Regions from separate parts of the Homo sapiens genome. Here region 2 is linked to region 1. Evidence: fine-mapped expression QTL. A gene starts in region 1. The other region holds a variant in brackets. All regions are shown on one strand. Distances are between the middles of the regions.

Region 1 (2,906 bases):
TCCTAATTGTTTTCCAAAGTCGTAATAACTAGTTTCCACAAGATTTCATTGTATTTTTTCCCTTATATCTTGTGCATTTGGGATTTTGTTTAAAAAGTCCTTCCCCAGTCACAAGTCACAAAGATATTCTCCTGCATATATTAACTTCATAGTTTTACCTTTCACATTCACAGTCTACCCTCTTAGGTGGAATAAATAGAGATCCAGTTTTATATTTCTTTTCATGGAGAGCCAAATTTCCCAATGCCATCTACTAAACAGCCCATTTCCCATTTTTTGTGGTGCAGGCCTGTAAACTCACCCATTTAACAAACAGTTGTTGAAGCCTGCCTCATACCAGTCTTGTGCTGGGTGTTGTTGAAAGCTTGAAGATACATGGCCCCTGCTCTCAGGGAGTTCACCCTCCTGTGGAGACACAGTCACATAAACAACTACAGTATTGTGATAAGTGCTAGCTTAGCTGTATAGGTAAGGTGCTCTGGGTTTCTAACTCATCTGCGAAAGTCAGAGAAGGTTTCATCGAAGTGACAAGAGTTAGGTCTTAGAGAAACAGAGCAAAATTGCAAATGCAGGGGGAAAGGTGAAAGTGGTCAGGGCTGGTTTCAGGTCCAGAGGAATTTCATGTGTCTCTAGGATGAGAGGTTAGAAGCCCTCCAACGATGTAGAGAGGTAGTGAGTCCTGTTTATGTAAGGGATAAAGGGACAGATGGAGTCATTTTCAGCCCGTCTGTGCTTGAAGTGGAGAAACAAACCCACCCTCGGAGGCACAGAGTTCCACCTACTCTGTGCCCCACCCCAGGGTTTAGGCTTGAGGAAGAGGAGGGGCTGGAATTAAACCATCAAGAAGAAAACATTTGCAGACTAATATTTACTATTTTGTGGGGGAGACCTCACTTCCCAGCCAGCTCCTTGAGATGGCTTCAGAAACCCCTACTTGCCCCACTCCAGAGATATAAATTCATTCCCTTCTGCAGACGCTGCTCCGGGATTGAGGGAAGGATGGAGTAGGAGGGGAAGAAGGCAAAAGGGTGGGAGAGGCTTCTAGTGTGGGAGAGGCTTCTAGTCGTTCTGGCTCCTGCTCCAGCTCGGGTTGGGTATGGCCATAGATCTGAACGTATGCAGAAAAAGCTAGGAGTGCTCAGGGATGGTCTGGGGCTCAAGGACCCGGGAAGGTGGTTGGGAATAGCTAACCAATTCACTTCAGGTGGGGAAATACTCGGCCAGACACGTGACCCAGGCGGCCATTTTCTCACACCCTGCTGTCGCCATCTTCCAGGCAGACAAAGACACCATCCCCCACCCTTGTCTGATTCGGGCGTGGTGACTGCCTGGTTATTGAGATTTGGGAGCACGCATATTTAACCCCAGACAGATGCCCGCAGACAAAATTTTGGCTTGCAAGTAAGGTATATGGCCGCACCAGTCGACCCGCCGCTTCTTCCCGGTCATTTCCCCGTCCTCCTTCTCCCTCCTCCGCTATTTCCTTAACTACGGGGCAGGCAGGAGGCGGGGCCAGCGTGGTCGCGAAGAAGGGACGGGCGGGCGTGAGCTGTCAGTCAGAAGCTCCGCCCCCCCCCCCCCCCCCCCGCGGAGACCGCACGGTGGGCGGAGTCGGGCGCCGCCGGCCTGGGATCCGGAAGTCGGAGCCTAGCTGCGCGAGAGTTTCTGCTCGCTCAACCGAGTTGTCGTGTTGCCCTCGCTTCTCAGATCCCCGCCGGAAGTGTAAGTAAGAAACTTCTCTCCTCTTTTCTCACAATGTGCGCTCACCTAGACGGCCGGGCAGTTAGGATCGTCTATTGGATGTGAAACCAGAGATGCCCGCCAACCTGGAATAGAGAGGTAAACAGCAGGATCCCTTCCAGGGTAGAAGGGACCGGAAGAGGGGCAGGGATCGCGGCACACGTGGAGACGCGCCGAATTGCCTTTTCGCGGAGTGGAGTTTGCCGGGAGAGGGGCATTGCCCCATCCCACCTAGAAAGGTGTAGACCCGGGACACACTGTGTAGAGAGGCACAAACTTCACTTGTGTGGTGAAGCGTTGATCGTCCTCAAGATAGTGAGGCTTCATTCTGCATTCACCTTGTATAGACAGGAGTCGACCCACCAAAGGCATGGGGGACATCCACCCCAACCGTGTAGAGACATCTCCCTCCACCCAGCTGAGCAGCGCAGACTTCTCCCGACTTAAGGCACTTCCTTGGCTTGGCTCTAGACAGCCGTCTCGAGGCACCTCCTCAGGACAGACAGAGGCTTTGATGTATCTGCCCCCATACCAGCATAGAGGAGCTTAGAAACATTTAATATACAGAGGGAGGGCACCTCCTCCCCATACGCGTAGACTCAGAGCCCTCAGTATCGCTCCCCAACTCACCCGTCCCCAAAGTGGTTGCAGTTACAGGCCTCAGCTTATGGACAACTAAGCCAATTGCCCCCTCCTCTTAGGTTAGAGTGAGTCCCCATTGTGGAGAATCAGACCTGATCCCTACTTCCGTAGCCCCCGTTTTACCGAATGTGTAATTTTTCGAAGCACCCAACATGCTTCGAAGCAAACAGGAACAGACCTTAATCCATGAAGAGACAGTCAGGTCTGCCCCTTGAGGGGCCGTGGGGGTAGAGGGGCTCAGATGTGTTCCTCTCCCTTTGAGGTAGACACAGATCATCCCCCTACCTCCCCCTACCTCCCCCAAAGATTTAGAATCACTAAATGTAGCAAGGGAGATACCCCACAGGAGCAGATATGCAGGTCTCCCTCCCTGTAATGTTGAGAGGGAGTGACATCGCTGATTACCTGGCAGTTCAGTGCGTATGGTCTCTCCCCTTTACCCAAGGTAGTGGAGCTCAGATCTGTTTCTCTCCACCCAGGGTAGAATCACAGACGCCCCCACCCCCAAGTATTAGGGCTGATCT
Region 2 (2,906 bases), 98 kb before region 1:
AAACTGTTTGGGCCACCTGCTTTATGGTAGTCTGTCCAGAGGTTCAGGCACTGGTATACCTGAGATCAATCTCATTGTATTAGTCAGTCAGGAGCTCTGTCTGGATCACTCACTGTTGGGTGCTCAGCATGGGCATTCAGACTTTTTGTTTGTTTTGGTTTGTTTTGTTTTGAGATGGAGTCTTGCTCTGTCGCCCAGGCTGGAGTGCAGTGGAATGATCTTGGCTCACTGCAACCCCCGCCTCCCAGGTTCAAGTGATTCTCCTGCCTCAGCCTCTCAAGTAGCTGGGATTATAGGCGCACACTACCACGCCTGGCTAATTTTTTGTATTTTTAGTAGAGACGGGGTTTCACCATGCTGGCCAGGCTGGTCTTGAACTTCTGACCTCAAATGATCCACACGCCTCGGCCTCCCAAGGTGCTGGGATTACAGGCGTGAGCCACCGCACCCAGTGGCATTCACTCTCCTGAGAGAAGTCCGGGAGTTCCGAGTGAGTTCTGAGTGAGCTCAGGCATTGGCTCACTCAAGAGGGCTCAGCTGGCATCAGATGTGATTGCATGTAACAAAGAGACACCAAATAATGATGGCTTAAACAAGATAGAAACCTCTATTTTTCTTTTTTTGACACAGAGTTTCACTCTGTTTTGATCATTGCTCACTGCAGCCTAGACCTCCCGGGCTCAAGCAATCCTCCCACCTCAGCCTCCAGAGTAGCTGGGACTACAAGCATGTGCCATGCCGGTAAATTAGTCATATCTGCTTATTTTTTTAATTTTTTTTTTTTTGGTAGAGACAGGGTCTCCCTGTTGCCCAGGCTGGTCTCAAACTCCTGGGCTCAAGTGATCCTCCCACCTTGGCCTCCCAAAGTGCTGGGATTACAGGTGTGAGCCATCGAATCCGGCTCAAACCTTTTATTTCTCTTATGTAAAAGCAGTCCTGACCGGGCACGGTGGCTCACACCCTGTAATCCCAGCACTTTGGGAGGCCAAGGCAGGGTGCATCACAAGGTCAAGAGATCGAGACCATCCTGGCCAATATGGTGAAACCCTGTCTCTACTAAAAATACAAAAATTTGCCGGGTGAGGTGGCACGTGCCTGTAATCTCAGCTACTTAGTAGGCTGAGGCAGGAGAACCACTTGAATCCGGGAGGTGGAGGTTGCAGTGAGCCCGGATTATGCCACTGCACTCCAGCCTGGCAACAGAGTGAGACTCTGTCTCAAAAAAAAAAAAAAAAAAAAAAAAAGCAGTCCTAAGAAACTGCTCCTTTCTTCCATTAAATTTTTTTTTTTCAGATAGGGTCTCACTCTGTTGCCCAGGCTGGAGTGCAGTGGCAAGATCACGACTCACTGCAGCCTCGAACTCCCTGACTCAAGCACTCCTCCCACCTCAGCCTCCCAAGTGTAGCTGGGACTATAGGAGTGCACACCATACCCAGCTAATTTTTTGATTTTCTATAGACAGGGTCCCACCATGTTGCCCAGGCTGGTTTTGAACTCTTGGGCTCAAGCAATTATCCAGGATTCTTTGAGCCAAATTTGCCAAAGTATCCCTGCTGCACTCAGTTATTGGTAGTTTTTGGCACTCAGCT[G/A]ATGGCAAGCAATGTCTGCGCAAATACAAGGGTGGATTTCAGAACAGCAGCTGGGGCCCTTGATTAAATTCATCCCCTGTAGCTTACGGTCTGTGAGATGAAGTCTCATGGCTACCATAGGTGCATACCGGTGGTTCCCTCTGGGGATTCCCTCTAGGGCTCATTTTGGGCTTTTTTTTTTTTGAGATGGAGTCTCGCTCTGTCACCCAGGCTGGAGTGCAGTGGCACAATCTCGGCTCACTGCAACCTCTGCCTCCCAGGTTCAAGTGATTCTCCTGCCTCAGCCTCCCGGGTAGCTGGGACTACAGGCAAGTGCCACCACGTTCAGCTAATTTTTTCACTTTTTTTTTTTTTTTTAAGACAGAGTCTCGCTGTGTCGCCCAGGCTGGAGTGCAGTGGCGCGACCTCAACTCACTGCAACCTCTGACTCCCGGGTTCAAGCAATTCTCCTGCCTCAGCCTCCCAAGTAGCTGGGACTACAGGTGCCCACCACCATGCCTGGCTAAATTTTGTATTTTTAGTAGAGATGGGGTTTCACCATGTTGGCCAGGCTGGTCTCGAACTCCTGACCTCAAGTGATCTGCCCGCCTCAGCCTCGCAAAGTGCTCCAATTACAGGCGTGAGCCACCATGCCCGGCCTTGGGCATGTTATTTCCAGGTTCAGATATTAGGTTTTCAGTCTGAGGGAAGCTGTTTCAGAACATGGGCTCAGTCTACACTTTCAGCAGGGGGGATGAGTTTGTGGCTTTAGTATGTGATGGGTCCTTCTGGGAACTCACCCTGGGCCCATTTGCAGGATATCAGTCCCAGTCCCCATACTCCTTCAAGGAGCTAAGTTTGGGGACTCAGTCCCGTGGCTCTACCTAGAGGCTCATTATGGGCATTATGGGGACATGACTTTAAGGTTAAGGGTTTACATGTTGATGGTTCACTCTTTTTTTTTTTTGAGACAGGGATCTGGCTCTGTCACCCATGCTGGAGTGCACTGCTGCCATCTCTGCTCATTGCAACCCCCGCCTCCTGGGCCCAAGCTGATCCTCCAACCTCAGCCTCCAGGGTAGCTTGGAGACCGCAGGCATGTCCCACCAAGTCCTGCTAATTTTTGTATTTTTTTCAGAGACAGGGTTTTGCCATGTTGCCCAGGCTGGTCTCAAACTCCTGGACTCAAGGAATCTGCCCAGATGGTTCACTCTTGAGACACTAATTCTAGTGTTTCAGTTGGGAGAGGATTTGATATGGGAGCCTGATATTTTCTCTGACATATGACTAAGCCTCTCACCGAGTGAGTGCCAGTTTCAGAGCTCAGTCTGCTCAGGT

Evidence for each region. PIP is the estimated chance that this variant, and not a neighbour inherited with it, causes the effect.
Region 2: its variant is the best candidate, but not a certain one, in a credible set for the expression of GNL3L in whole blood (TOPMed, PIP 0.81).

The regions. Positions count from the first base shown.
Region 1 is chrX:54,528,581-54,531,486 of GRCh38, forward strand. It overlaps GNL3L (G protein nucleolar 3 like), which reads left to right and starts at 1,639. Exons shown (of 16, transcript NM_001184819.2): 1 at 1,639-1,839. RefSeq lists enhancers at 1,040-1,560, 1,215-1,264, 1,715-1,774, 1,785-2,044.
Region 2 is chrX:54,430,806-54,433,711 of GRCh38, forward strand. No RefSeq gene overlaps it. Among named protein-coding and RNA genes, the nearest start is that of TSR2, 8.1 kb to the right of the region's middle. The variant G/A (reference allele first, on the strand shown) is at 1,590.